Linked DNA regions of Homo sapiens. The protein of the gene in region 1 interacts with the protein of each later gene in a biochemical or structural test. Each region holds a gene or a part of one and is shown in the gene's direction. Other genes may lie near its edges.

Evidence for each region.
Region 2: the proteins of GTF2A1 (region 1) and NCOA6 form a complex in vitro, tested with the Homo sapiens proteins (one study listed by BioGRID).
Region 3: the proteins of GTF2A1 (region 1) and TAF4B form a complex in vitro, tested with the Homo sapiens proteins (one study listed by BioGRID).
Region 4: of the proteins of GTF2A1 (region 1) and FAM20C, one has a biochemical effect on the other in vitro, tested with the Homo sapiens proteins (one large-scale study listed by IntAct).
Region 5: of the proteins of GTF2A1 (region 1) and TAF1, one has a biochemical effect on the other in vitro, tested with the Homo sapiens proteins (one study listed by BioGRID).

Annotation. Positions count from the first base shown.
Region 1 is NC_000014.9:81,191,080-81,197,431, reverse strand, and holds part of GTF2A1 (transcription initiation factor IIA subunit 1), read left to right. Parts: coding exon 1-23; intron 24-1,190; coding exon 1,191-1,324; intron 1,325-4,592; coding exon 4,593-4,913; intron 4,914-6,352. UniProt on the Homo sapiens protein: TFIIA is a component of the transcription machinery of RNA polymerase II and plays an important role in transcriptional activation. TFIIA in a complex with TBP mediates transcriptional activity.
Region 2 is NC_000020.11:34,740,415-34,746,766, reverse strand, and holds part of NCOA6 (nuclear receptor coactivator 6), read left to right. Parts: intron 1-3,425; coding exon 3,426-6,352. UniProt on the Homo sapiens protein: Nuclear receptor coactivator that directly binds nuclear receptors and stimulates the transcriptional activities in a hormone-dependent fashion. Coactivates expression in an agonist- and AF2-dependent manner.
Region 3 is NC_000018.10:26,273,339-26,279,690, forward strand, and holds part of TAF4B (transcription initiation factor TFIID subunit 4B), read left to right. Parts: intron 1-1,324; coding exon 1,325-1,486; intron 1,487-1,592; coding exon 1,593-1,715; intron 1,716-6,352. UniProt on the Homo sapiens protein: Cell type-specific subunit of the general transcription factor TFIID that may function as a gene-selective coactivator in certain cells.
Region 4 is NC_000007.14:197,858-204,209, forward strand, and holds part of FAM20C (extracellular serine/threonine protein kinase FAM20C precursor), read left to right. Parts: exon of another isoform or gene 1-2,826; intron 2,827-6,352. UniProt on the Homo sapiens protein: Golgi serine/threonine protein kinase that phosphorylates secretory pathway proteins within Ser-x-Glu/pSer motifs and plays a key role in biomineralization of bones and teeth.
Region 5 is NC_000023.11:71,376,357-71,382,708, forward strand, and holds part of TAF1 (transcription initiation factor TFIID subunit 1), read left to right. Parts: intron 1-593; coding exon 594-835; intron 836-1,246; coding exon 1,247-1,465; intron 1,466-1,878; coding exon 1,879-2,097; intron 2,098-2,467; coding exon 2,468-2,675; intron 2,676-5,386; coding exon 5,387-5,563; intron 5,564-6,179; coding exon 6,180-6,307; intron 6,308-6,352. UniProt on the Homo sapiens protein: The TFIID basal transcription factor complex plays a major role in the initiation of RNA polymerase II (Pol II)-dependent transcription.

The DNA of each region.
Region 1 (6,352 bases):
TCAGCAGATATTAACAAATTCAGGTAATTAGGAATGATGGAACCATTTTAAAATGTAATTCAGAAAATTGTACTATCTAGCCCTTAGGTTTTGTCTTCTTTGAAAGACAGAAAATACTAATATTTCTTTTACCATTTGGTTTAGGTTATTAAAATAACTTTATTTGAGGGCTGTAACACATATAACTGTAATCGTTGTTGAGGATACAGTAAAGAAGATGAAAATTGTACTTGAACCTTTGATCTGTGCATGATAACCCTATTATTGAAGTATGATTATATAAAAATGCTTACTTAGTTTTTTACTGAACACATTTAACATGCCAAGTGAGTATTAAACTTCTTTGAACTTGTGATATCAAAGTAATTCCTAGAGCATATTAAGAGCAAATTTATTGTATGCTATTATTATACATAGTATCTCTTCATTGACAAAAGACCAATGTCTAGCTCATGTGTTTTGGCATATTGGTGCTTGAAAAATTTATTTACATGGATTTTAAGTGTTCCCTATAATCTTGATTATATAGTTATTATTTATTTTCTATTCTGTGTATGTTATTTTTGTTAATTTGTAAATTTGTGAAATTAGGGGCTTGTCTTGCTACATATTTTAATAAGATGTAATTTGCTTTTTAATCAATTCAAGATTCTGGGTTGTCTAAAGGAACATATTGGGGGAATTTGATTCTGTGTGAATTGTATGACAATGATGATAACTGGTTCTGTGAACTTTTATTGCTTTTACCAATTTTGAAGCAAAGTTCTTTGGTGCTTTGTTTGGTTCAAGATATTAAATGAGCTATTAAGCTTTTGTTCCTTTAAAGCTTTAAAAATGAACAGCTCCCGAAGTGTCTGATCTTACTGCTCTTTCTTCACTCCTAAGGTTAGCAAAGATAATGTAAGCTTTAGTCAAGTCTCATAATCTGTTGTTAAAACCTTGTTGGAAATAGCTGAATGAGGATGTAAATATGAAAAATAAAACATTTTAAGGAATGTATTTGAACATGGCGAGAAGTCAGAGAAGGGGAGGATTATGCATACTGTGTATGAATGACAACCTTTAATAAAATTGTTAGTTTTCTTGATAATTTCTTGTGCCTTTGGTGGTATGAAATTAAATATGAATTCATTTCTTTTGAGATGGTCACTGCTAAAATGATAACTCGGAATGCATGCTTTTTGCTTTAGGCCAGCTTCTTCAGGTGGTCAGAGCAGCCAATGGTGCCCAATATATCTTTCAGCCTCAGCAGTCAGTGGTTCTACAACAACAGGTTATACCACAAATGCAGCCTGGTGGAGTACAAGCTCCTGTTATACAGCAGGTAAAATAATCTTCTATTATGATCAGTATGGGGTTCTGTTTTATTCTGTATGTATTCCCTGGGTAGTTTCCCTCTCCTTATATGCACAAAAGACTCTTTTTCAGTGCTACAGACCCAGTTGTTTCAAATTTCTCCTGTATACAGCTTAACTTAGATTCAGCATGTATTAAACATGTATTAAACAATTACTGTTGTCTCTGCCCATCCTTCATCATCCCCTCGAAGGTGGCAGCACTCTCCTTCCAGCTTCCTAAGCTGGTCATTCAGCCTTTATTCAATAAGCAGTTACTGAGTCTCGGGGTATTCACAAGGGTCAGGGGATTTAGGAGTGAATGACACAGACATGACTCTAGTTTTATGATGCTTACTGGAAGTGGGTGTGTAGAATCCTCCCTTTTCCTTACCTCTAATACCCAAGGTATCAAGCCCTACCAATTCTTGTTAATAGTTTTTCTTTTCTTTTTTTTTTTTTTTTCGAGACAGAGTCTTGCTCTTTCACCCAGGCTGGAGTGCAGTGGCGCGATCTCAGCTCACTGCAACCTCTGCTTGCTGGGTTCATGCCATTCTCCTGCCTCAGCCTCCCAAGTAGCTGGGACTACAGGCGCCCACCACCACACTTGGCTAACTTTTGTATTTTTAGTAGAGATGGGGTTTCACCGTGTTAGCTAGGATGGTTTCTATCTCCTTACCTTGTGATCCACCCGCCTCGGCCTCCCAAAGTGCTGGGATTACAGGTGTGAGCCACTGCGCCCGGCCTTTTTTTTTTCTTTAACTGCAGTTTTGCCATGGTTGCAGTCCCTTAATATGTTTGACACTGTTTTTTTCTCAGCCTCTTTTTTCATTTCCTTAGTTCATACTGTCCATGATTTGTCACTAAAATGCTGCATTGTCTTCTTAATGGTTTCTCTGCCTCTCATCTTTTGCCCTCCTAACCTGGCTGATTTATAGTCATCTTTTTTTTTTTTTTTTTTTGAGACAGAGTCTCTGTCACCTAGGGTGGAGTGCAATGGCGCAATCTCAGCTCACTGCAACTCCCGCCTCCTGGGTTCAAGTGATTCTCCTGCCTCAGCCTCCTGAGTAGCTGGGATTAGTGGCACGCACCACTGTGCCCAGCTAATTTTTGTATTTTTAATAGAGACAGAGTTTCACCATGTCTAGGTTGGACTTGAACTCCTGACTTCAGGTGATCTGCCCGCTTTTGCCTCCCAAAGTGCTGGGATTATGGGCGTGAGCCACTGTGCCTGGCCTATCTTTCTAAAAATCCTAAAACTTTTAACAGCTTTTCATTGCCTACTGAGAAGAGCCTAAACAACTCAACATGGTTTATAAAATCTTTTTGTGGATCTTGTTTCTTTGAACTCTCCAGGTTTATTTCTTGCCATGCTCCCAGTTATTTTCTTTAGCTGCATTTACATCAAAATAAACACTTGGATCTACTTGTGTTATATTCTTGTGCTGTGGCACTAAAATGAAAGAGGAATGGTTATTTTCTTGAGGAACTTATGTACTTTATATGTTTATGTGTCTGTCTCTTTTTTAAATGTCAGTAAAATAGTATTATGATAGAGACAAGATCAGAGCAGTACTATTAATCCAGTTTATTTACATCTTTCCAAAATTATGTACTGCTGTCACTTCTGGGTTTCACTTGATGTTACACTTCTCTTAAGAATGCCGTCTGGCAACTCCCTGCACTTCCCCCAAACAAATAGAAAAACCTGGCTAATCTCCTTAAAGCAGCAGTCTCTTAGCTTTTTGACACCAGGGACTGGTTTTTGCAGAAGACAATTTTTCCATGTACTGGGCAGCAGGGATGGTTTCGGGGTGAAACTTTTAATTCAGGTCATCAGGCATAAGGAGTGCACAACCTCCATCCTTGCATGTGCAGTTCACAGTAGGGTTCCTGCTCCTATGAGAATCTCATGCTGCTGCTGATCTGACAGGAAGCAGAGTTCAGGTGGTGATGCTGGCTCATCCACCACTCACCTCCTGCTGTGCAGCCCAGTTTCTAACAGGGGTTGGGGACCGCTGCCTTTAAGCACAAACAGAAACTACTTACTAATAATATAAGTAATATTTGATCATGCTTTGTCCCCTAAGTTGAATTTGGTACACTCTCTTGTGTTCCCATAACACTGTGTCATATTTGTACTACATCTGCTGTGTTTTTGAGTTGTTAGTGCTTTGTCTATTATACCATTTTTTTGTCTTTTGTGTTGTTACACCACGTGTAAGCATTTTAAAGGAAATACTGTGTCTTATTTTTGCATTCCTTGAACCTAATGGCAAGTAACAAGCATCTAGTCCTCCTCCTTTATTATAATACATATAGTTAATATTTGTTAGTATATATTTTTTCAAGTTGTGGCTTACTTTAGAATCCTAGATGCAGAACCTGGAAAGGAACTTCAGAAATCTGATCTGGTGGTTTTTAGAAAAATAATTAGCTTTTATCTCACACTGAGTCAGAATATTAGGGGTATGGCCAAGGTATCAGTACTTTTTAAGTTGCCAGGTGGTTCATATTTGCAGCCAGGATTGAGAACCATTAAGCCTAGTTTGACAGTGAAACGACAGAGGCCAAGAGGAGTTAAATGACTTGCGTCTGCTGTATTTATGTCTGACTTTAGACAAAAGTAGACCCAGGTTGGCCAGGCGTTGTGGCTCACGCCTGTAATCCCAGCACTTTGGGAGGCGGGCGGATCATGAGGTCGTGAGTTCGAGACCAGCCTGACCAACATGGCAAAACCCCGTCTCTGCTAAAAATAACAAAATTAGCCGGGCATGGTGGCGCGCACCTGTAGTCCCAGCTACTCAGGAGGCTGAGGTGGGAGAATTGCTTGAACCCAGGAGGCAGGGGTTGCAGTGAGCCGAGATCACACCATTGCACTCCAGCCTGGGTGACAGAACGAGACTCCATCTATAAAAAAAAAAAAAAAAGGTAGACCCAGGTTTTCAGATTCTCAGTCCAGTGTTCTTCATGTGAAGGCAGTGTATAACTTTTGTCCTGGTAGCTGGCATATACATAGTATGTGCTCAATAAATGAAGCAGTTATCTTTAGAAAATCCTTATTTTCTAGAAATTTGATAAAATAGAAATTTAATGGGTCACTACACTAGTTAAACTAATTGCTTTTGTACTTTGGTAGTTTTTAACTGTGTATGAAATATGGCCATTCTGGTGAATCTTAAGCATTTGTTTCTATTTCTGTGTACCATACTTGATCCTCTTAACTAGTTACTGTTATGTGGTTTTCTTTTGCTTTAGGTGCTGGCTCCTCTTCCTGGAGGGATTTCACCACAGACAGGTGTCATCATCCAGCCTCAGCAAATCTTATTTACAGGAAATAAGACTCAAGTTATACCTACGACAGTGGCAGCACCTACACCAGCCCAAGCACAGATAACTGCAACTGGCCAGCAGCAACCGCAGGCCCAGCCTGCTCAAACACAAGCTCCATTGGTCTTACAAGTTGATGGAACTGGGGATACATCATCTGAAGAAGATGAAGATGAAGAAGAAGACTATGATGATGATGAGGAGGAAGACAAAGAGAAAGATGGAGCTGAAGATGGGCAGGTGGAAGAAGTAAGTTTCTAGTAACATACTTAAAATAATCTACTTGATTATTTCCTTTTTTAGTTGGTACAACACTGATAAATTATATCCTGTTTTTTTCAGAGACTGTTAGGTGCTGTACAACATAAGATTTTAAAGATAAAGTTAGATTGTTTTAACTTTAGTAAGGTTTTTATATTCTGGCTATATTTATCTTCATAAAATATAACTTTCATATAGCTGGTAATAAAAAATGTATAACAAATTAAATTGTATTAATATGTGTAGTAAAGAGTACAGGTAATTCTAACTCTGGCTTACGCATTTATAATGTGGCTTAAACATAAGACATTGGTAGATAAATAGATGTGGTTAATCTTTTGCTTCAGTAATTTAAAAAGCGTGGCAACATTTGGGGAGAGAGCAAACTCAAGAACCAAATGTCACAAATTTATTAAATATTTAAAACCTTTTGGTCCATGTTCTATACCACTTCCTTAAAAACCTATGTACCCTTAATGTCTGTGTTCTTCTAGAAGCATATAAATATGCCTTTGTTTTCCTCACTATTTCAGCTTAGTTACTAGGCTCCAAAAACTATTTGTCCCACCACAATTTTCACTGTTAATTGCCTTCGTTAGCCTAAAATGCAGTCTTTTTGTTTCTTAGTACAAAGTTCTTCTAAATTATCTAAGTAATTTTTTTTCTGAAGAAAACATAGTTTATTATTGAATATTGAATAGACACAAATGAATAGAAATGTTTCAAGATAAAAATCATCCTGGTGCCCACCATCTAGTTAAAATAAAATTCCATTATTTAAAGTGCCTTAGATGCCTCTCCCTAATCCCATCATTCCTAGGCCATCAAAGTACCTTTGCTCATACATTTGTGTTGATTATTAATTGCTTTTATATTTTACCATATATATTTATATTCCTAAATAGCATATTGTTTAGTTTTGCATGTTTACAACGTAAATGAAGTAATTACGTATTCTTCTGCAAGTTGGTTTTTTCCCCTTAAAATGATATTCCTGAGGTTTATCCAAGTTGTTGCATATAGCTATAATTATTTTCATTGCTGAATATACCATAATTTTATTTGTCAATTTTTCTAATCCAGTGGACATAAGGATTGTTTCTTGTTGTTTACTGTTACAAACAGTTATAAAATATTGTAGTGTATGTCTTCTGGGGACACAAATGCAAGAGGTTCTCTAAATTTTATACCGAACATTGAACTTCTGGCTCCTAAGTCATGCACATCTGCAACTTTATAATAAAATGCCAAATCACTTCTGCCATTCAATACATAATTGTGCAGATGTCCATACCCCCTTATCAATACCTGATAGTGTCAGGCTTCCTGATTTTTGCTGGTCTGGTAGGTAGAAAATAGTATTATTTCATTTTGGTTTTAGTTTGCATTTCCTCACTTAGGAGTTTTAGCCTCTTTTTGTATATTTA
Region 2 (6,352 bases), on another chromosome or scaffold:
CATGTGGCATTACAAGGCTTCCATGTCTTCAAGGAAACAATAGTATTTTATTTTATCTGCTAACTAGTCTACTTCAGTGATTTAATGTGTCTGGTATTTGGAAGCTTTGCCTTGATATTAAGTAAAAATTTCAAATATAACTTTTGAAGGCACATACACACACACATTCTATTCAAATTTGTCTTTGTTATTTTAAGTCCTCATAAAATCGGACTGAAATGTGGTTGGGCATGATGGCTCATCCACCTGTAATCACAGCACTTTGGGAGGCCAAGATGAGCAGATCGCTTGAGCGCAAGTGTTCAAGACCAGCCTGGGCAACATGGTGAAACCTTGTCTCTACTAAAAATTTTTTAAAAATTAGCCAGGTGTGGTGACACGCACCTATAGTCCCAGCTACTCAGGAGGCTGAGGTGGGAGCATCACCTGAGCCCAGGAAGTCGAAGTTGCAGTGAGCCATGATCATGCCACTGCACTCCAGCCTGGGACCCTGTCTCAAAAAAAAAAAAAAAAACCATGAAATGTGAAGTGCCTCTTTATTCTTGTCAATGTCAAGATTCTAGTTGGCATCAGAACAGGATAAGATTAAATGGAGAGATGATTTCACTCTAATCCTGCTTGCCTGCCTTTCCTGCAGCGTTTCTTCCTGGGGCTTCTCAAAGCAGGGAACTACCAGGGTTTAAAACAAGATGATCTTTTTTATAGAAGTTTCATTAATGAGTCTTTAAAATATAAAGAAGATATAAAGAATAAAAGAGACACCCATGTATCTACCACATAGGTTAATAATTTATAATAAATAGGACCAATATTGGAAGCCCCCTTTGTTGTATCCTCTCTGATTATAAAATAATACTATCCTTTAAATGTTGAAAAATTATGTCAAAGATGGAAAAGCTCCTAAAATTAATTCATTCAAACCTAGATATTATAGAACCAAGGCCAGCTGCCACAATATCTCTATACCTGGTTATCTTGGCCTGAGCAATGACTTGTAACTTTATTCCCCTATGACACGGTTGAAGATACACAACCCTTCACACTTAGGCCACTCTCCCCTGTGTGTACAGAGGGTATGTTTTGTTTCTTCCTCACTAGTTATTTCAACTTCTTTTTGGCATGAAAATGAGAGCGACATTATTTTAGGAGTAACCTTTAATCTACCCCTAATTTATGTATTTTAAAATTGAATCCAAACAAAAAGCTAAATCCATCATGATATCAATACTTTGTGTTATTTATTACAAATTATTTGGGCATATCACACTTCCCGTCAGTGAGATGCAGCAGCATAGCTGAGACTGGGAGGTCATCAGTCTTTGGGGAGTATGTCCAGAAGGCATTGAGAGCAGGAACATGCCTGCTTGCCTCAGACACATCTGAACTCTTCTTATAAGAATCCCAGGGGTCTTTGTATACATTTATTGCCTTCTTTCTGCAAACTGGGGGCCTGCAGGCTGAATTTGGCCTATAATGGTTTTGAGTTGCTATGCAGTGTCTTAAACAAAAGTCCGAGTTTAAATGCCTTTAAATAGGGCATCTGCTCTGCAGTTTGGCACTGTTGACAGGACTCCTGCTGTCTTATACCAGTCCACTTCTATTCTCTACTACCTGCCTGGCCCCTAAAGGCATAGGAGTTTGCATTCCCTGAGTAATAAATTCAGTTTGTGATTGTGTTATGGGCACTATGTGTGTCCTGGCTTTCCCTCTTCACCATTCTGTCACGTCAGCCCCAATCTGTCTTATCATTAGTGCCTTTTGGACTGCTGCCTCCAGCTTCTGGACTCTGTAGCAGCCATGCCCTTAACTGTTACTTTTGAGAGGCTGCTATATTGTCTATGCTGTCCTCTTTGGTATTTACTGTCTGGTGGGCTGATTTTAAAGATAAAAGGCATCCATGTCATAACCCTGACATCAACAGGCTTTTGTAGCAATTACAAATTTCTTAATGTGGGAACCCCAGACTGAATGTGAAAAATAGGAACCCACTGTATTTGACTATGTAGTCGAAAGGACAGTTGAACCATAGAAATGCCATGTTATTGGCTTTATAAAGGTGAAGAAGTTACTCGGGCCTAAAATAAAAAAGGATTTTTTTAAAAATCTTCAAAACTGGATTCTACACATTGTATTCATTGATACCATGGAAATCTTTGGCCAGAAGACATTAATTGAGTGCTGAGTCTGACCCACAAAATTTGGTAGCTGCTCTATGAAAATGTTGAGTCAGCATTTCTTTTGACTGCCAGAGCCAGTTGTTCTTATTCCTACACCTTCTTAAAACCTCCCTAATGTACTCTTCATGCAACAATGGAATAAATCTAGTTTGTGGAACTGGAATTGTATCCCATATATGCCCAGCTGTATGCCCACTTTTTCCCACAGAACCACCGTTATTCTTGGTTTGCGTATCTTTTTATCTTTTCTGATTGTAAGGTTTTGGTTCTAAAATGCCAAGTAAAATCTTCACAAAAAAAGAGAATAATTTGAGATGTTGCCCTCTGCATATCTAGAAGACATTGTCCTTCAGAGTTCTTTTCCCAAAATTATTTTTTATTCCTGAGGGCTATGCTTCTGCCTTACTTATTCTCCAGCTGTGGATTCATGGAAAATATTTCTCCAAATAGAGATTTGCATGTAAGAAAGTAAGTGCAAATTAATATCCATAAAAACTTCAATGCCCTAATTTTATTTTCAATGTGTATATCAGCTTCCATTAGCTCCTACTGTTTATTAAACTGATTTACACCTGAAGGGCAATTTTAATTCAGTCGGTTTCCCCCAAAGGATTAAGCCTGAAGGATGCGGCGTAGTGTATGGAGCCAATGAATTGGAATAATTTTAAATTCCTCTTTCTTAAGGAACTGAATCCTAGAATTTTATATTTTACTTCTGTTGAAAGAATAAAAAGGCTGTCTTCAGTGCTGTTATTTTCAACAAAACCACATCTTAAAAAAATTATTCCTGTGCTAACAGAAGAAGTGAATCCTAAATGCTTTACTTCATTCACAAGTACATTGAAATATTGATTATGACTACATGAGACCTGAATCTTGGGTGGCCAGGCACTTGATGTTGATGGAGTTTTTCTCATTTCATCTGAATGTTTGGCTGGTATAGACACAGCCATTTTCAGTGCATAGCACAGAAAATCAGGCTCTTAGTACAGTCATGGCTCATTCAGATCCTACACACCGAGGAGCTCCAGGTTTTTTGATGCTTTGCTTTTTGCTTCCTTAAGCACTGTGCCCCTTTTGCTTATGTCAAGTAATGAGGGGCTGCCCCCTGCCCCAGGAGTGGGCATGCCTGAGCTGTTTGTGCATAGTCTGTGCCACCTAGATGAGTATTGCTTGGCTATACTCTAAAGGTAGCAACATTTTCTTGCTGAAAAATCTAACTTCCCTAATTTGGGGGGCTTGTTTTAGGTTATCCTTCTCAACCAGTTGAACAGAGGCCACTTCAGCAGATGCCTCCTCAACTCATGCAGCATGTGGCACCCCCACCACAGCCACCACAGCAGCAGCCACAGCCACAACTGCCTCAGCAGCAGCAGCCACCACCTCCCAGTCAGCCACAGTCTCAGCAGCAGCAGCAGCAGCAGCAACAAATGATGATGATGCTCATGATGCAGCAGGATCCCAAATCAGTTAGGCTTCCAGTCTCTCAAAATGTCCATCCTCCAAGGGGCCCCCTGAACCCCGACTCCCAGAGAATGCCCATGCAACAGAGTGGCAGTGTGCCTGTCATGGTCAGTCTGCAAGGACCTGCCTCCGTGCCACCATCACCTGATAAACAAAGAATGCCAATGCCTGTGAATACTCCCTTGGGAAGCAATTCAAGGAAAATGGTCTATCAGGAGAGCCCGCAGAATCCTTCCAGCTCGCCACTGGCGGAGATGGCCTCACTCCCTGAAGCAAGTGGCAGTGAAGCACCATCTGTCCCAGGAGGCCCAAACAACATGCCTTCACATGTAGTACTTCCCCAGAATCAGTTAATGATGACAGGGCCAAAACCTGGACCATCGCCCCTTTCAGCAACTCAAGGTGCAACTCCCCAGCAACCCCCTGTAAATTCCCTGCCCAGCTCTCACGGCCACCACTTCCCAAATGTGGCTGCGCCAACCCAGACATCTAGGCCCAAAACACCAAACAGAGCCAGCCCCAGACCCTATTATCCTCAGACACCCAACAACCGCCCTCCCAGCACAGAACCTTCAGAAATCAGTCTGTCACCAGAAAGACTCAATGCCTCCATAGCAGGACTCTTCCCTCCACAGATTAATATTCCTTTACCTCCTAGGCCAAATTTAAACAGGGGCTTTGATCAACAAGGCCTAAATCCAACAACTTTGAAGGCCATCGGGCAAGCACCTTCAAATCTTACCATGAATCCTTCCAATTTTGCTACCCCACAAACTCACAAATTAGATTCTGTGGTAGTGAATTCTGGAAAGCAGTCTAATTCTGGAGCAACAAAACGGGCAAGTCCAAGCAACAGTCGCAGGTCTAGTCCTGGGTCCAGTAGGAAAACCACTCCAAGCCCTGGGAGGCAAAATTCAAAAGCCCCTAAACTTACTCTGGCCTCTCAGACAAATGCAGCCCTATTGCAGAATGTGGAGTTGCCGAGAAATGTATTGGTCAGTCCCACTCCTCTGGCCAATCCCCCTGTACCTGGGAGCTTTCCTAACAACAGTGGGCTGAATCCTCAGAATTCTACTGTGTCTGTGGCTGCAGTTGGGGGTGTTGTTGAGGATAACAAGGAGAGCTTGAATGTGCCTCAGGACAGTGATTGCCAGAATTCCCAGAGTAGGAAGGAACAGGTAAACATTGAACTAAAAGCAGTCCCTGCCCAAGAAGTTAAAATGGTTGTCCCTGAAGATCAGTCCAAAAAGGATGGGCAGCCTTCGGATCCTAACAAACTTCCCAGTGTCGAAGAGAACAAAAATTTGGTGTCTCCTGCTATGAGGGAAGCACCAACATCGTTAAGTCAACTTCTTGACAACTCTGGAGCTCCCAATGTGACAATTAAACCCCCTGGGCTTACAGATCTGGAAGTAACACCTCCAGTAGTTTCTGGGGAGGACCTCAAAAAAGCATCTGTCATTCCCACACTGCAGGATCTGTCTTCTTCTAAAGAACCTTCTAATTCCCTAAACTTACCTCACAGTAATGAGCTGTGTTCATCCCTTGTGCATCCCGAATTGAGTGAGGTCAGTTCTAACGTTGCACCAAGCATCCCTCCAGTAATGTCAAGACCTGTTAGCTCTTCCTCCATTTCCACTCCCTTGCCCCCAAATCAAATAACTGTATTTGTCACTTCCAATCCCATCACAACTTCAGCTAACACATCAGCAGCTTTGCCAACTCACTTGCAGTCTGCATTGATGTCAACAGTTGTCACAATGCCCAATGCGGGTAGCAAGGTTATGGTTTCTGAGGGACAGTCAGCTGCTCAGTCTAATGCCCGGCCTCAGTTCATTACACCTGTCTTTATCAATTCATCCTCAATAATTCAGGTTATGAAAGGATCACAGCCAAGCACAATTCCTGCAGCCCCACTGACAACCAACTCTGGCCTGATGCCTCCCTCTGTTGCAGTTGTTGGCCCTTTACACATACCTCAGAACATAAAATTTTCTTCTGCTCCTGTACCGCCTAATGCCCTCTCCAGTAGTCCTGCTCCAAACATCCAGACAGGTCGACCTTTGGTCCTTAGCTCACGAGCCACCCCTGTTCAGCTTCCTTCCCCTCCTTGTACGTCTTCTCCAGTTGTCCCTTCTCATCCCCCTGTGCAGCAAGTGAAAGAATTGAATCCAGATGAGGCTAGCCCTCAGGTGAACACCTCAGCAGATCAGAACACTCTTCCCTCTTCACAGTCAACCACAATGGTTTCTCCCCTTTTGACCAATAGTCCAGGGTCCTCTGGCAACCGGCGAAGCCCAGTCTCGTCTAGTAAGGGCAAAGGAAAAGTGGACAAAATTGGCCAAATTTTGTTGACCAAGGCATGTAAGAAAGTTACAGGCTCTCTTGAGAAAGGGGAAGAACAATATGGTGCAGATGGAGAGACTGAAGGCCAAGGGCTAGACACCACAGCTCCGGGGCTCATGGGAACAGAGCAGTTATCCACAGAGCTGGACAGTAAAACCCCAACGCCCCCAGCACCCACTCTGCTAAAAATGACCTCTAGCCCTGTGGGCCCGGGCACTGCCTCAGCAGGACCCAGCTTACCTGGCGGTGCTCTCCCCACCAGTGTACGCTCGATAGTAACCACTCTGGTACCCTCCGAGCTCATCTCCGCCGTACCGACCACAAAAAGCAATCATGGTGGCATAGCATCTGAGTCACTTGCGGGT
Region 3 (6,352 bases), on another chromosome or scaffold:
TATTTAATATTTTTATTATGCATTATGAAATATACATGCAAACAAGACTACATGTGATATGTACACATATGTAATATGTACACATATGTAATATGTCTGCTGTTGAAAAAAATAATAGTAAAATGAAGGCCCATATACCCCAAACCCATGTTAGGGCCACCATGTGTCCCCACTCCTCTCCTTCTATCAATTCTCAGCATTTTAAATGTTCTTCCTGTTTGTAAAGAAAATTTTTTTCTAGAGACAGGGTCTTGTTAGGTTACCCAGACTGGTCTCGAACTCCTGTCCTCAAGCAATCCTCCTGGCTCAGCCTTCCAAAGTGCTGGTATTGTAAGTGTGAGCCACTGCACTTGTCCTTCTTCCCATTTTTTACCCTCAGAACATTCTTGTCTAGTACATATTCCAGTCTCTCTAATGTGGGAGATTTTATTGTACATTCAAATTCACCTATCTTGACTATTATAGAAGGAAATTTTCTTGAAGGTGATTGCAACTTGACCTTTTTGTGTTGCATGCTTGTAGAACATAGACATTTAAATTAAATGATGGTGCATTGTTCAGTTTTCTGTGTGAATTGTATGTAAATACTATTCCTTATCCCTGATCCCCAAACTTTTATTATGTTCTGTAACTTTTAGTGTTTGTCTTTAAGATTGTTGCTTTATCTCAATGTGATTTTCTAAATTACTGCCTGACTTGTGATTGCTTGTATGAGGTTTTTGTCCTGTAGGTGATGCTAGCTAGAGTCACACCTCATTTTGATAGAAGGTAGAGAAACAACTGAAATTCTTTTCAGTGTGAATATAAGATACCACGTTTTATAATATTCTTCATGCTTACTTTAATGGTCTACATAAAAGCAGTTTATCTAAATTTTAGATAATAAGTAGATTGCTCTGCTTTGTTCTTAAGAAAAAGCAGAATATTCTATGTTCTCATAAAGACTTTCAGATACTTCTTGGAGTATTAATAATATTTTTTGAGGACTTATTTGCTTTAGCACTGTTTTTCACAAAAAATCCTAGGACAGCAGGTACCGTTGCAATCCCTATTTTTGCAGAGAGTAATCAGGATTAGCAAGATTAAGTAACTTGCCTGCAGTCAACACTTGGTAGGTGGTAATGAAATAGTAGATGGGGTGAGAATGAAACCCAGATCTGCTAGACTCAAGAGTTCCTAGAACTGTATTATATTGCCTTAGACTACTAGAGCATAACATAAAACCACAGATGTCAAAATTAACTTGTCTGATGAGTGTGAAATGAGGCACCCACTAATGTATCATAGTAATACATGCCTAAATATTTAATACCTTTAATTTCAGTCTGTGGCTGTGCCAACCAGTGTCGTCACAGTTACTCCTGGAAAGCCATTGAATACTGTAACTACCCTGAAGCCTTCAAGTTTGGGAGCATCATCCACTCCTTCAAATGAGCCCAATCTTAAAGCAGAGAACTCAGCAGCTGTTCAGATTAATCTTTCTCCGGTAAGCTCTTACTTGCACCTTACATAAATCTTGTTCCTTGCAAGTTCTTTTGAATTGTTTGCTCACTAACACTTGTGTTTGCTTATATTTACATTTTCATATTTAGACAATGCTAGAAAATGTGAAGAAATGCAAGAACTTCCTTGCAATGTTAATAAAACTAGCATGTAGTGGATCACAGTCCCCAGAAATGGGGCAAAATGTGAAGAAGCTGGTGGAACAACTTTTGGTAAGTAGTGCTATAAAATCCTGCAAATTCTGGAGGAATCCATATAACATGTTGTAATTGGGAAATGCATATTTTTAAATGGGATTTATTTAATTTATTTATTTATTTAATTTATGTTTTGAGACAGAGTCTCGCTCTGTTGCCCAAGCTGGAGTGCAGTGGCGTGATCTAGGCTGACTGCAACCTCTGCCTCCTGGGTTCAAATGATTCTCCTGCCTCAGCTTCCTGAGTAGCTGGGATTACAGGTGTGCATCACCACGCTCGGCTAATTTTTGTATTTTTAGTAGAGACGGGGTTTTGCCATGTTGGCTGGGCTGGTCTCAAACTCCTGGCCTCAAGTGATGCACTTGCCCTGACCTCCCAAAGCGTTGGGATTACAGGCGTGAACCACCAAGCCCGGCCTGAGATTTATTTTAAATGTAGTTCTTGATAAATTTTGTTTTTTGCTTCTTGAAAGCTTTGTAAAGACTATAAATCTTGGCTAGAAAAACCTATTGTATATTTCTTTTGAAAATTTACCTTTTTAAAAAAATTGTATATGTTTAAGGTATACAACATGATGTTTTGATATATATATTATTTCTGTACATCAGTCTTGCCTCCCTTACTCTACAAAGGGCCTTGGAGAAAAGGTTCATTATTTAGTCAATAGGAAATTGTTATTAGAATTATGAAATCTCTGCTGGGCACAGTGGCTCATGCCTGTAATCCCAGCACTTTGGGAGGCCGAGGCAGGTGGATCACCTGAGGTCAAGAGTTTGAGACCAGCCTGGCCAACATGGTGAAATCTCTTCTCTACTAAAAATATAAAAATTAGCCAGGTGTGGTGGCGCACGCCTGTAATCCCAGCTACTTGGAAGGCTGAGGCAGGAGAATGGCTTGAACCTGGGAGGCAGAGGTTACAGTAAGCTGAGATTGCACCACTGTACTCTAGCCCGGGCAACAGAGCAAGACTCTGTCTCAAAAAAAAAAAAAAAAAGAAAAGAAAAGAAAAAAGAATTATGAAATCTCAGAAAGCCAGGCTATCAATAGATAATGAAATTCGGTTCTTATATGTCCAGATAGACACCAAGCTTTGGGACCACAGAAGTTAGTTAATGCTCTTAGGCCTCACTTTCCTTATCTATAAGATTCTCATCTTGCAGATGAGAATGTTAAACATGATGATCGTTGATGTTTATATGAGTGCCAAGATGCTGTGTCTTTTAGCTACCAAATTATATGCCTTTGGTTTCTTACATCCTCTTTCAGGTAAAATATGTAGGTGCACTAAAAAGAGTGGAGATAGAAGTTAGCAAATATTTCATATTATATGCTTAAGACATGCTGAGGATATAACAAACAAATGGATTTGGATTTTTTGAACTACTATAATATACAGATTTCTCTCACCACGTAATTAGAATTATATTTTTCACATAAAAATTATCCCTTTTTCCAAGTATAAAATGTGTATATTTCAAATATTATACAGCAAAAACAAGCATAGTTTATAAATATTAAAATACCTTCTTTACTACTGTTTTTAATGCTGCCTGTAAGATGTTAGAGCACACTTGAAATGGTTAGTTTTTCATTTGGGAAGATGTTTTTATTACAGATGTCTAAAATACCTCATACTAACAAATTTTTAATTCAACTTACGGGTGTCTTTTTAAAAGTAAACATTGAGCTTTTGATCTTCCCTTTTCAAGGTATGCTAGTTTTGAAAGGGGATATGATGACTTGTTTCTCTGAAATGGAATACTCTAGATGAAGAGACCTGTTGGAAATGAATACGTATCCCATAAAATATTAAAGACTTTTTAACCACAAAACATATGTGTGAATTTTATGGACAGATAGAAACAGTTAGGAATTAAATATTACCTCTAGTTTTAAGATCTGTTTACTTTAGAACGACAAACAGCAGTTCTAAAACATTTTGGTTTTAGGATACCTTTAAATTCCTAAAACTTGAGGACTCCCCAAGGCATTTTGTTTTTTGTGGGGTTAACATTAAAACTGAAAAATGCTTAACTTTTTTTATTGAAAAAATTTTTTTTTGAGATAGGGTCTTAACTCTGTCACCCAGGCTGGAGTGCAGTGGCGTGAACAAGGCTCCCTGCTTTCTTGACCCTCCTGGGATCAAGCAATCCTCCCACGTCAACCTCCCAGGTAACTGGGACCACTGACATGTGCCACCACACCTGGCTAATTTTTTGATTTTTTTTGTAGAGACAGGGTCTTGCTATGTTGCTCAGGCTGATCTCAAACTCCTGAGCTCAAGTAATCATCCCACCTTGGCCTGGCGAAGTGCTAGGATTACGGGCATGAGCCACCGTGCCCAGCTTGTTTATTAACAAATAACAGTAAACCCATTAAATGTTAACACAACTGACATTTAAGTGAAAACCGAGTTTCAAAACAACAACAGAATTGAATGAGAAGAGTGGCATTGCTGTACCAATTTTGCAAATCTCTTTAGTGGCTGACCTAATGGAAAACAGCTGGATTCTCATATCTTCTGCATTTAATCTGTTTTGTGATATGTTATTTTTTTGGGAGTATTTGGAGAATATCTGGTCTTGTGAAGAGAGGTGGTTGGAATAGTGATTATTTTTTTAAAAATAGCTTTTCTCCAGATCATGGTGGATATTCTTTAGAGTCTACTGGTTTATCCTGCATGCTGAATGGATCTTTTACCCACGTATGATTTTTGTAATGACATTCATTGTTCATTGGGAAAATACTGGTTCACTGAGTTATGCAGATCTTTCAAATGTTTCCAGATTTATTATTTAAGATATCAAAATAACATGCTCATTAAATTCACCAACCTTATTAGAAAATTCTTGTACCAGGAAGCTATCAAGCTCAGAATAGTTGTTACACATTTTTCAAAATTGTAATTTTGGCTGGAGAGCTTTAATTTTTATCATTAGCAACAAATGCTATCCATTGTTTTCTTTACTGTTAGTGGTTTAGTTTGTTGTTGAGAAAATATCTAACAAATACCCAAGTCTGAATAACCACAATTGCTTTGCCATTCTTTTCAGTAAAAATGGAAAAAAGTGGCTAGTTTAGCGACTCAATTACAGTGCTTTTCCTTGATCCTCTGACTTTGATCTGCAACAAAAATGCTCCATGTATGTTTCCTATTTTGTTATATACAATATTAAAGAGGTATCTACTGAAGAGTTGAGATTTAGTAAAGTTAATTTTTACTGCTTCATCCAAGGATGTTTCAAAGTGAAATTGGGTCTATTTTTTTTTATTTTTATTTTTTAGAGTAAGAGTCTTGCTCTCTTGCTCAGGCTGGAGTGCAGTGACATGATACTAGCTCACTGCAGCCTCAAACTTACGGGCTCAAGGGCTCCTTCCACTTCACCCTCCAAGTAGCTAGGACTAAGAGGTGTGTGCCACCATGCCCAGCTAGTTTTAAAATATTTTTTTGTAGTGACAGGGTTTCACTTTGTTACCCAAGCTAGTTTCCCAACTCCTGGCCTCAAGCGATCCTGCACCCTTGGCCCGCCAAAGTACTGGGATTACAGGTGTGAGCCACTGTGCTTGGCCTTCTGTTGTTTTTTTTTTTTTTTTCTCCAAGCACATAGCACTGTAGAATGTGATGATGGCTGTTTCACTTTGCCATTGCCTTTCTTACCGGTAGTTTTACCCATTGTTGCCTTTGCACCATGTGTGCAAACATTAGCTTAGTGAAAAAGGCTTTCTCTCCAAGATGTTAGTATTAATGGAAAATAATTTAGATCACACATACCCCTGAAATGCTTAATAGTGTAAGCAATGTGTAAAGGTTCCTCAGTTCTTTGGAACTGCTGTTATGGATTTACAATGTCATTCTGAAAATAGTCTTGCAGATCCATAGCCAACATCATATTGAATGGGCAGAAGCTCGAACCATTTCCCTTGAGAATTGGAACAAGACAAGGTCTCACCATTCCTATTTAACATAATATTGGAAGTTGTAGCCAGAGCAGTCAGGCAAGAGAAAGAAATAAAGGCCTCCAAATAGGAAAAAAAAGGAGTAAAACTCTGTCTTCACTGATGATATGATTCTATGCCTAGGAAATCTTAAAGACTCTGCCAAAAGGCTTCTAGAACTGATAAACGACTTTAGTAAAGTTTCAGGGTACAAAATCAGTTTTCAAAAATCAGCATTTCTATACACCAAAAATGTTCTAGCTAAGAGCCAAATCAAGAGCACAGTCCCATTTACAATAGCCACACACACAAAAATGAAGTACCTAGGAATACAGCTAACCAAGGAGGTGAAAGATGTCTGCAAGGAGAAATACAAAACACTGTTGAAAATTCATGCTTATGGACTGAAAGAATTGATATCATTAAAATAGCCATACTGCCCAAAGCAATTGACAGATTCAATGTTACTCCTGTCAAACTACCAATGTCATTTTTCACAGAATTAGAGAAAACTCTTTTAAAATTCATATAGGACCAAAAAAGAGCCTGAATAGCCAAAACAATTAGAAGCAAAAAAAAAAAAAAAACAACAACAACAAAGCCAAGTGGCATCACATTACCTGACTTCAGACTATACTGTAAGGCTACAGTGATCCAAACAGCATGGCACTGATACAAAAACAGACACATAGACCAATTGAACAGAATAGAGAACC
Region 4 (6,352 bases), on another chromosome or scaffold:
CACCTTAGGAGTGCTTTGTCCATCTGGACAAGCTAGGCTTGGCTCACTGCCACCCCTCTTTGGTCCAGCTGTCCCGGGGCAGTGGTGCCCAGGCTGCCTGACATTGCAGGGGTGTGGACAGAGCCCTTGCCAGGGAATCCCTACCCCAGGATTCTGGTGTGGCCTCCGCCTGGGTGTGTCCTGGTTAATTCCTGTGCCTACTGAAGGCCTGCCCCAGCTGATCTCGCTCGCTCGCCTCCTAGACCATGCTGGCCACATTGGTTCTCATCCAGTCTTCTGGGGTGGGGACCCGTCCAAGGACAGGCTGGCTGCTCAGTCATTCTGCAGGGCCAAGCAGGGCCTGCAAGGACGATGGGCAGACACAGCCGCATCACCCAGGCAGGACAGCAGGCTCTGGCCCAGGAGATCTGGGGGTGAATCCTGGCTCTGCCAGCCATTAGCCAGAGTGGAAGTGGGCAAATGGATTAACGCCTCCAGCACCTGGTTTCTCACCGAGAACACAGAGAAGGTTATAATCTGGACCTGGTATAATCTGGACTCTGACTTACAAATCTGAATGCCAAGCAAAACCCATTCACTAGCGAAAACTGACTCAGGCTGAACGTATTTAGGGGCAAAACCTAAATTGTCGAGGCTAGTTAAAAGTCCTGATTTTTCTCTGTTACATTGAATAGTCACATGTTCCTCTGAGGAACAGGAGTGGGTTTAATTATGGGGTTCTGCCCTAGACCCGTGTGGGCATGCCATGATCCACACCATGCACCACGTGTGCCTTTGTCATCGAAATACCTGCAGTTCCCAAATACATCTGGCCTCACAGGGTTGTTGGGGCTTAAATGTGCAAATACGAGTAAAGAGGTGAGAGCGGAGCCTGACAGCGCACCTGCTGGGCAGGGTCTCCAACACTGCAGCATTTTGGGGGAAGCTCTCCTACTGGGTGGGGTCTTTGTACAGCAGCAGCATTTCAAGGTGGGCTGATCCTTCTCATCTGGGGAAGCCAGGGCTGGGCAGGTGCCTGAGCCTCATGAGGGTCTCAGTCTAGATGCTGGGCCCTATTCTCCCTGCTGCCTTGGGCTTGGAGATGCTCACAGGTGAGTTCTCATTTGTGAAGAGGTCTGTCTTCCTGAGGAAGCAGGGGACCCTCACCTGTGAACCAAGTGTGCCATGGGAGCTGCTCCATGTCCAGGTCCAGGTCTCCTGGTCTGCAGGGAACGGCACAAGAGGGCTGGCCTAGGCCAGGAGGATGTGATCTGTCCTAGAAGGGGGCTGACCTGCTTGCTGACCCCGCTTGCTGCTGCCTGGCTGGCCTGACTCAGCCACGGCTGTTCCGAGGGCCCTTCTGAGTACGAACTTCCAGTTGGAGGATCTGGGTGAAGACCCAGCTGCTTGAGATAGCAGCCTCTGGCTAGGCCCTTGGCGTGGCCAAGCCAATCAGGCAGGTTTAGAGCCTGGTGCCCCTAGACAGGTCCTGCAACCAAGAACAGGGGTAGCCTTCAAAGGCCAGCCCTGCCTTCCAACCACCGCTCCACAGCGAGGGAAACCAAGGCTCTTAGGGCAGGAGGCTTGTCCGAGATTAGCACCTGCGTGCTCCAGGCTCTGAGTTCTGTCCCCTCAGCTGTCCGGCCCCTGGGTGCTCACTTTAATCTCAAGTCATTCATCTTACTATTAAACGTGAGCCCAGAAATATTGTTGTAATGGAGAACGATGCCTGCGAGTCTCCAAAGCCTTCCCTCGGAACGGTTCCATTAAATCTCTCCTGCTCAGAACCACCCAATCCAATTCATGGAGCGCCACGTGGTCTACAGCACAGCTGGTTAGGGCCAGCGGAGGTTTATTTATAGCTGGGCTCCTGGCTGCCTGGTAACCGGCCATTGCCACCTTTAAAGAGTCTTGGGATATTATCTACCTCTATTCAGCTTGAAATCGGGCATGCAGTGCCTTGGGCTGGGGCTGGCGATAATTAAATTTCTATCATGCACAATTATGGATGCAAAGAATGAATGACATCCCACTGGCATGTGAGGATTCGGGCAGCTTCTGGACTGAAATACAGACTTCATAATTGCTCCATCCAGATTGGGACAAAGACTGTGGTTGGGAGAACATGCCTGAACAAAGAAAAATGACTCTGCAGGACCAAAGTTCTTGACACTGATTGATCTGCCAAAAGGGGAAGAATGAGTCCAGCTAGAATCCAGGACTAACCAGCGGGTGAGCTTCAAGGAACAAAGGGCTTCCGCTGGGTCAGCCCACGAGAGGGAGCTGCCTGCAGGTACCTGGGAGGGCACAGCCACCGTGTCTGTTCCTTGGGAGCAGGGCTCCTTGGAAGGCAGCGCCAGCTCCAGAAAGGCCACTGTTCCCCCTCCCACCCACCCCAGGTGGCAACTGCCCCTGCAGGTCACGGTCCCAGGGCCTCGCTCGGCCGGCCTAGAGAGAGAAAAGGGAAGATGCCCAATTAGCTGGACGCCCATGGCCCCAGGGCTGGGGGACCTTGGGTTATCCTGAAAGAAGGACAATGACCACCTGCAAAGGACGATTTCAAGTGGAGCCTGGAGGAGGCGGCAAATAGCTCAGTCCGCACTCAACTCCCTTCCCAGCCGTCTGGTGGAAGGTGAGGAGCAAAAGCTCATGCTGCTGAGGCCTGGGGCCACCCAGGCACCGGCCTCCCCGTGCTGAGCAGAGACAGCAGCCCCCTAGCTGCAGGAGTGTGCCCCGATGCGCACCTGCCGACTTTCCTTCTGATGCAGACATGGTCCCCACTGGGGCAAGGCTGCAGTTTTCTTTTAAAAAACAGATCTTTCAAAATAAAAGGGGCCTTGAAGAAAATCGTGGAATAAATAACAGTCTGGGGTGGAGGCGGTTCTGGCGAAAGTGTCCTGAGGGTGGTGTGTGATGGACGGGACTTTGGGCAGTGCTGATGGGGCCTTGCCTGTCACTTGAGGCCTCCAGGAGAGTCGAGGACTGGCAGATCCAGGTCCAGAGCAGGTGCAGGCTCCCAGCTCTTCCAGCCCCTTACCTCGCAGTAGGTTCCCACAGTTCTAGCCTCCTTGATGCCAGCCCCAGGGTGCCCACTGCTGGCCAACTATGTCCTTTTCCTCAAAACCAGGTCCCTCGGTGCCCAGGGTGAATGGGTATATGAGCCTGGGTGTGGGCACCCGGGGTCTGGGACACCGAGCAGACCTCTCTGGCTTGGAGATGTGTGCGGTGGGAAGAACAGGGTGACCTGAGCTCTCCCGGTGTCACATTCTCCACATCTGAGCCCTCTTTGGGTGAGGCCCTACTTCCAGCACACACAGCTGTCCCCATTCGTCTTCAGGAATAACTGACCCTTGAGGCCAGACAGTGGCTGTGAAGAGCAGGGGGACCGCCTGACCGTGACCCCCAAGGACAGACGCTGGCCCTCTTGACGGACGAGATGACCAGGGCCAAAGGCGGCAACATGGGGGCCCACGCTGACGGCAGCATCTCACACCTGGATGTGTTTCTGTGGTCCACAGGTCTGTAGGAGGTGGAACTGGTTAATTTAAAGTCAGGTTGGGGTTGTTGTTAGAAAGGGTTCCTGCTCCCACGAGAAACCAAGGATGAGTGGTGGCTGCACCCAGTCTCCATCCCCATGAGCACCCTGCGGGGTGTTGGGACCCCCAGGCCCGGGCCACACACCTCTCTCTTTCAGGGCCGTCTCTCCCTGTCTCTCCAGACCTGCTCTGGGTTCTTCCTTCTAGAGCTTCCCAGTGGGTTGCCGGAGCTGTCTGGGGTTATGTGGCTTGCCTAAGGCCACACCGATTGGGGCCTGGCACCAAAGTCCATTAGTATTTCTGTGACAGCAGCCATCTTTCTATGTAAGACGCTTATTTCATAAGAAATGCCAGCATCTCTTGGAGTCCTTCTGAGGAGGCAACTGCATACGAACATCGCCTCTGTCTCGTGCTGTGACCCGGGGAGAGACTGTGGGCAAAACCCAGTGGCGTCCGAGGGTCTGTGTGGCCCCGAACTCTTAGTGCTGACAGCAACATGAAATAATGAAGGCACAGGGCACTCTGTTCGTGCATGTTAACTTGTGTAACTAGTGCACGTTAATCACATTAACTAGCCATGTTAACTAGTGACGTAGATTAATAATGATGAATCAATAGGAATGAGTCCTGTATACTGACGGATATCCGGGCGATAGGATTCTTCAGCGAGGCCGGGGAAGAAGCAGACTGTCACCTTTGGTCTAAAGTTGGTGGGTTAAGTGGTGGGAGGTGCTCAGGGCAGGTGGCAGGAAGGGGAGAGCGTTCCAGATGGGGAGAACCTATTTGAAAGGCAGTGGACATCTTCCCATGTGCATAGAGAGGACGGGTGGCCACTGGGCGAGATTGCACTGGGGAATGGGGCTTGTGGACATCTTCCCGTGTGCATAGAGAGGACAGGTGGCTGCTGGGTGGGATTGTACTGGGGAATGGGGGGGCCCTATGGATATCTTCCAGTGTGCATAGAGAGAATGGGTGACTGCTGGGTGAGATTGCACTGGGGAATGGGGCCCGTGGACATCTTCCTGTGTGCATAGAGAGGACGGGTGACTGCTGGGTGGGATTGTACTGGGGAATGGGGGGGCGCTATGGATATCTTCCCATGTGCATAGAGAGAATGGGTGGCTGCTGGGTGAGATTGCACTGGGGAATGGGGCTTGTGGACATCTTCCCGTGTGCATAGAGAGGACGGGTAGCTGCTGGGTGGGATTGTACTGGGGAATGGGGGGGCCCTATGGATATCTTCCAGTGTGCATAGAGAGAATGGGTGGCTGCTGGGTGAGATTGCACTGGGGAATGGGGCCCGTGGACATCTTCCCGTGTGCATAGCGAGGACGGGTGGCTGCTGGGTGGGATTGTACTGGGGAATGGGGGGGCCCTATGGATATCTTCCAGTGTGCATAGAGAGAATGGGTGGCTGCTGGGTGGGATTGCACTGGGGAATGGGGCCCGTGGACATCTTCCTGTGTGCATAGCGAGGACGGGTGGCCATTAGAGCAGTGCAGACGGGACCTGTTTCCAGAAGAAGGACTGAACTGACCAGATTTGCATGATATGTTTTTATTGCACTGGGAATTGGGGCCTAGAGGCCCACTGGGGTTTGATTGTGCTGTTGGTTTCATGATGGCCTGGATTTCAGGGGAGGGGCAGGTGTAGAGGGAGATGGAGGGAAGGTGGTAGGTGGGAGAGGGCTTAGCAGGTGAGTCTCTGAGACTTGTCCACGGTGTGGGGTGACTTTGGGGTCTGTGCCAGGATGCCCCCGCCTCAGCCGGCTTCATGGGCATCAGAGGGATCAGCTCTCAGTGGGTCCCTCCCCAGGCTGGGGTTGGGCAGGCTCTGACTGACCCCTGTCCACTGGAGGCACGGGAGGCTGCATCTGGGAGGGCGTCTCCGTCAGTCCCGTCCCCAGGACCTGTGCCCACACGCCTGGGCTTCTCCCACCAATGAGGTGAGCTTTCCAAGCATCGTGAACTTTGGTCTATCTTCAAGAAAACCCAAAATTGCACCTTTTTTTCAAGGCCTGGCCTGTGTCCTGGCTCTGCCACCTGCTGGCCCCTTCCTGGGTGGGAGGGCAGGGGTGACCCGATCAGTGACAGGAGGGTGGGCGTCTGTACCTCCCACCCATCCCGATGAGCACCGAAGGCCTGAGACGCAGGGCAGCTTGTGTGTCGGTCTTTGCAAGGAGACTGTATCTGATTTTAGAGCAGAATTCCAAATGTCTTTCAGCAGAAGACCCACTTGGTAGACTGAGTGGTGGGCCCACGGTCCACAGGAAGCCGAGTCCTCAGTCGCTGTGAGATCTTCATGCCTTTAATTTCTAATTGTTTATTTGCTCCATGGGGAGGAGCTGGCCTCACAGCTGAGCACAGGGGCCAGGAAGATAGGACCTGCTTCCAGACGAAGAAGGACTGAACTGACCAGATTTGGATAATATGTTGTTATTTTACAAACCGGGATTACAAGCCCTGGAAGGAGCTGATGAGCTGTCGCACCTGAGCCAGGAAGGAACTGTTAAATCCTGTGACCCCAGTTACTAATGGAAATGGGGGCATCAAATGGGGCTTAATCCGGCTACTAATTTTCTCATCGTCACTTCGTTATTATCTTACTAAAAAATGTAGTCACTATTCATTGCAGAAACTTAGAAAGCACAGTTAAGGAAAAAACAGAAAACTAAAGTCAACCACGGTTTTACTTTTGGGAGAAAACTACCAAGCTTCAGGCGCCCATCCGTGCATCCCAGGTTAAAAATCCGTGCAGTGTATTCAGAAGAAAATGGTTATGGCGTCTAAGTTTTTAATAGGCTGCTTTGCTTACTGGTAAAATCATACGCTGTTTGC
Region 5 (6,352 bases), on another chromosome or scaffold:
GTTACAATATTGGTTACTTATCAGAAAGTAGGGCCAGGTGTGGTGGCTCACACCTGTAATCCGAGCACTTTGGGAGGTGGAGGCAGATGATTTGAGGTCAGGAGTTCAAGACCAGACTGGCCAAGATGGTGAAACCCCGTCTCTACTAAAAATGCAAAAATTTAGCCAGCTGTCGTGGCGCATGACTGTAATCCCAGCTACTCAGGAGGTTGAGGCAGGAGAATCACTTGAACCCGAGAGAGAGAGGTTTCAGTGAGCTAAGATCTCACCACTGCACTCCAGCCTGTGCGACAGAGCAAGACTCTGTCTCAAAAAAAAAAAAACAACAAAAAATCGGAAAGTAGTAAATGTAGTAATAGTGTTTGTTTTCTCATCACAACCCTAGGGTACCAGGTACGTGGTGAGTTGGGGGACGATGGGAGATAACGAGTTAGAATGAGTTTTCTGGGTTGCATACTAGTATTATGATTTGGGTGCTTGGGCCTATATCTCCTGGCATTGAGCCATGTGTATAGCCTAAAGTGGGTGTTTGCGGAATTCGAGGAAATATGTTCACAGTTACATGCCAAAGGGGTTTCTCTTCCTTGTTGCAGTGTCTGAAAATGGAGAAGGCATCATCTTGCCCTCCATCATTGCCCCTTCCTCTTTGGCCTCAGAGAAAGTGGACTTCAGTAGTTCCTCTGACTCAGAATCTGAGATGGGACCTCAGGAAGCAACACAGGCAGAATCTGAAGATGGAAAGCTGACCCTTCCATTGGCTGGGATTATGCAGCATGATGCCACCAAGCTGTTGCCAAGTGTCACAGAACTTTTTCCAGAATTTCGACCTGGAAAGGTACATTCTGTGGAGAATGCTCAGATTGCAAACCACTGACCTCTTCCAAATAATGAGTTTTGTTGTTAAGATGCTGAGTATGGAATGGGGTTTCCTTACTCAGTGACATATTATTGGCTACATAAGAGCTCTTCACACTGTATTAGGTCTTTTTTTTAAAGTTGTATGTATTGATAGTAAATGTGATTTATGCTGTTCTCATTGGAAATTTCTCTGTTATCTTAAAAGAACTAGCCCAAATTATTAAGGAACGCTTCTTTACTTTCTTAGACGTTACAAGTCTGAATGCGACACTCCTTTGTTTCTCCCCCACATTTGAAGAGATCTCTCAAGGGAGTTTTCAGGCCCAGATGCTGCTGTTTTCCCATCTGACTTTGAGTCTGTGTCATAGTAATGTATTCTGTGTTCTAGGTGTTACGTTTTCTACGTCTTTTTGGACCAGGGAAGAATGTCCCATCTGTTTGGCGGAGTGCTCGGAGAAAGAGGAAGAAGAAGCACCGTGAGCTGATACAGGAAGAGCAGATCCAGGAGGTGGAGTGCTCAGTAGAATCAGAAGTCAGCCAGAAGTCTTTGTGGAACTACGACTACGCTCCACCACCACCTCCAGAGCAGTGTCTCTCTGATGATGAAGTAGGCAAAATAGAGACCTGAGATTAAGGCCTATGAGAGGAACAAATGAATTCAATGAGTTCTCCCTAATTTATGTCTAAATTGTAAATAATACCATAGCAGATAGAATCTGTGCTAATTTTCAATGAGTAATCATGGGTTCAATCTCAGTGGCTGCCCCTTCCCTATTGTAAAAGAAAAATGTTTGGTGGGGTAGGCGGGGATGAGAGGGGTAGATGGTGATATGCTGCTGAATAAGAAGGTTTGATTGATAGGTGGAATGTGCTATGATACATCTCCATTGTTTACATTCTAACTCCAGGTAAATCATCCTCAGTTTCTCTAAGTTCCCCTCCTGACTGTTAACTCTCTATAGCCTTAGGACATCTGGGATCAGGAAATTCTCCCTGCTCTACTTCTTTCTTCTGTTACAGATCACGATGATGGCTCCTGTGGAGTCCAAATTTTCCCAATCAACTGGAGATATAGATAAAGTGACAGATACCAAACCAAGAGTGGCTGAGTGGCGTTATGGGCCTGCCCGACTGTGGTATGATATGCTGGGTGTCCCTGAAGATGGCAGTGGGTTTGACTATGGCTTCAAACTGAGAAAGACAGAACATGAACCTGTGATAAAATCTAGAATGATAGAGGTGAGCAACACTGGTATGTAAGAAAGGAATCAATGTACTCAGGTCCTATTACTTTTACTAACTTTACTCTTTAATTGGGGAGATACTGGGTGGTAGGGTTTCTTTGGTGGGAGATTGAGGTGTCTCAGCCTTTTATTTGGTATGGTGTATCACCCTGGTAGCTAGGTCCTATTCTAAGGATTCTGTTTGTGAAATGAATGCTGTGCCAGACTAGGAGTGGGAAGAGGCAAATATTCCTCCGTTATCAGGTGGTTGTTTCAAGTAAAGGACCACTTACAATGTGTCTGATGTATCTTTAATGTGGAATTTGGAGTGGAAACCTTGACCAGTGACCAATCAAGGATGTGTTTTTTCTTCCCTACTTACACAGGAATTTAGGAAACTTGAGGAAAACAATGGCACTGATCTTCTGGCTGATGAAAACTTCCTGATGGTGACACAGCTGCATTGGGAGGATGATATCATCTGGGATGGGGAGGATGTCAAACACAAAGGGACAAAACCTCAGCGTGCAAGCCTGGCAGGCTGGCTTCCTTCTAGCATGACTAGGAATGCGATGGCTTACAATGTTCAGCAAGGTGTGCTTCTGTGCCAGCTGTGTCTAGCAGATACTGCCCTTAATCTTAGTCACCATAAGTGGGCTCAGCTGTGATTTTTTTTTTTTTTTTTTTTTTTCGGTGAGACAGAGTTTCGCTCTTGTTGCCCAGGATGGAGTGCAATGGTGCAGTCTCGGCTCACTGCAACCTCCGCCTCCCCAGTTCAAGCGGTTCTTCTGCCTCAGCCTCTGGAGTGGCTAGGATTACAGGCGTGCACCACGATGTCTGACTAATTTTTGTATTTTTAGTAGAGATGGGGTTTCTCCATGTTGGTCAGGCAGGTCTCGAACTCCCGACCTCAGGTGATCACCCGCCTCAGCCTCCCAAAGTGCTGGGATTACAGGTGTGAGCCACCACGCCCGGCTGGCTGTGATGTTCTGAGCTGCCAAGAGATAGTGAAATTTTTAGGATCTGAGGCCTAATTCTAGTCCCTGTAATTTTTATTTTATTTTTATGCTCAACCTGGAGGAAGATAGTCCATGTAATTTTTTGCCCTGTTAAGAAGCTAGGCCAGACTCAGGTTTCTTAAAAACATGTGATAAAGATCTTTTTTTTTTTTTTTTTTTTGAGACGGAGTCTTGCTTGCTCTGTTGCCTGGGCCGGAGTGTAGTGGCGCAATCTCAGCTCACTGCAATCTCTCCCTCCTGGGCTCAGGCGATTCTCCTGCCTCAGCCTCCCGGGTAGCTGGGATTACAGGCATGCGCCACCATGCCCATCTAATTTTGTATTTTTAGTAGCGATGGGGTTTCTCCATGTTGGTCAGGCTGGTCTCGAACTCCCGACCTTAGGTGATCTACCTGCCTCAGCCTCCCAAAGTGCTGGGATTACAGGCATGAGCCACCACGCCTGGCCTGAAGTTAAAGATCTTTCTGAACTATAACAGTACTTTATAGTATATTTTTGTTCCCAAGTCCCTTTGTATTTAGAATTCTAGTTTCCTATTTTTCTCCTTAAATAGGTTTTTTTTTTTAAGGTATGCCATGATTAATGTAAAAAACTTTGAAAATACAGTATAGTGTTAAAGTCACTGGTAATCTATCTGGAGATTATCAACTGTTAAGTTTTGGTGTATTTTCAGTGTTCTGTGTGTGTATGTAGTTGAGCTCATTTCCGTATGTACAGTTTTGCATACTGTGCTTTTCACTTACTAAATATTTTTCTCTCTTTCATTTTTTATTTTTCATTGTTGAGACAGGGCCTCACTTTGTTGCCCAGACTGGTTTCAAACTCCTAGACTCAAGTGATCTTCCTGCCTCGGTCTCCCAAAGTGCTGAGATTACAAGCAAGAGCCACCCCACCCAGCCACATAAATATTTTTGTGTCATTTAGAGTTCTTTATAAAAATGTTTAATGACATGGGAAACTCGTTCATTTTATTTTAATTAAATTATTATTTTTTGTAGAGGTAGAGTCTTGCTATTGTTGGTCAGGCTGGACTCCTGGGCTCAGGTGATCCTCCTGCCTCAGCCTCCCGAGTAGCCAAGACTTCAGGGGCATGCCACCACGTCTGGCTTGAGAAACTCATTTTAAATGGAAATAAAGAAGATATGAAACAACATATATGATATCCTATTAGTGTAAATGAAAAAAAGCAGACTATATAAACATAGAAAGCTGGATTACTTTTATATTTTGGAGGAAAAACAAAATTTTTTCTTTTTTGAGACAAGAGTCTCTGTCGCCCAGGGTGGAATGTGTTGGCGCGATCTTGGCTCACTGCAACATCTGCCTCCCAGGTTGAAGTGATTCTTGTGCTTCAGCCTCCCGAGTAGCTGGGATTATAGGCGTGCACCGCTGTGCCCAGCTAATTTTTGTATTTTTAGTAGAGACGGGGTTTCACCAGGTTGGCCAGGCTGGTCTTGAACTCCTGACCTCAAGTGATCTGCCTGCCTTGGTCTCCCAAAATGCTGGGATTACAGGCGTGAGCCACCACACCCGGATACAAAAATGTCTGATTTTTAAAACCTAAGAAATAGGTTTTTTCCCTTCCATTCTGCCCACTTTATGGGTTATATATTACTATTACGAATGTTTCATAATTTACCGATAACATGTTGCATTTGTTAATACAATTTATTACCATTTATTGTTAGCATACTTTACCATATCATTTATTGTCATAATTTAACCAATTCCTTCTTAAACATTTAGGCTATTTAAATTTCAACTATTATAAACAGTATTGCAGTGGACATTTTTGACTGCAACATTATTTTTATTTATTTATTTTTTGAGACAGAATTTCACTCTTGTTGCCCAGGTTGGAGTGCAATGGCACGATCTCAGCTCACTGCAATCTCTGCCTCCTGGGCTCAGGTGATTCTCCTGCCTCAGCCTCCTGAGTAGCTGGGATTACAGGCATGTGCCACCACACCCAGCTAATTTTTGTATTTTTTGTAAAGATGGGGCTTCTCAATGTTGGTCAGGTTGGTCTTGAACTCCTGACCTGAAGTGATCCACCTGCCTCGGCCTCCCAAAATGCTGTGATTACAGGTGTGAGCCACCGTGCTGAGCCTGCAACATTATTTTAAAGTGAGAAATACACTGTGTAGGTTCCTTTTCAGTGGACACATGAATAACTCCACTAACTCGCTCTACTAACATGAGTAACTCTTTTTATCTTTGCCAGAATCTTGATTGAAAGGGGCATAAATGTTTTCTCTGTTACTATTTCCTCCTTGCACTTTGACTAGGTTTTGCAGCCACTCTTGATGATGACAAACCTTGGTACTCCATTTTTCCCATTGACAATGAGGATCTGGTATATGGACGCTGGGAGGACAATATCATTTGGGATGCTCAGGCCATGCCCCGGCTGTTGGAACCTCCTGTTTTGACACTTGATCCCAATGATGAGAACCTCATTTTGGGTATATTACTGGCAGAGGCCAGTGTTTCTTCTCCTTTGAAAACTTGCTGTTAATGTCAACGGGCAGGAGGAAATCAGAAGGGTTGGAGATGATTAGGACTAGAAACCTGTAGGTAGCGGCTTGAGAGAGCGAAGTTTTGGCTGTTAGTTTATATTATTTGTGTATATGCTTAGGGAACACTCACGTAGGAATGTTGGAAAGTTGCAACTTTGAGATGTCAAGAGCATAGTTTGTTCCGTTAGTGAATCATGGACTCGAAACTTCTAGGTAGCAGTTTGAGAGAGCAAAATTGTGGCAGTTAGTTTTTATTATTTGTGTATTCCCTAGGGAAAACTCATGTAGGACTGTCGGAAAGTAGTACCTTTGAGATGTCAAGCGTGTAGTTCACTTAGTGAATCATGTACTAGAAGTGATTTGGGATGGGATGAAAAGATACAGGTGTAGTTCAGTTAGTAAATCGTGGACTAGAAGTTACCTGGGGGGGGGTGGGATGAAAGGTCTAGTTAAGACCTTCACTGGAACATCCGTCACCTTAAAGAAGAAAACTGGATACTTGTCTGTAGGAAAGGTGAATCTTCAGGGAGAGCAACTCAAGTGATTTTTGTTTTATTCTCAGAAATTCCTGATGAGAAGGAAGAGGCCACCTCTAACTCCCCCTCCAAGGAGAGTAAGAAGGAATCATCTCTGAAGAAGAGTCGAATTCTCTTAGGGAAAACAGGAGTCATCAAGGAGGAACCACAGCAGGTGTGTGAAGAAAAAAGGGGCTTGGTGTTTAGAAGAACAAAGAAA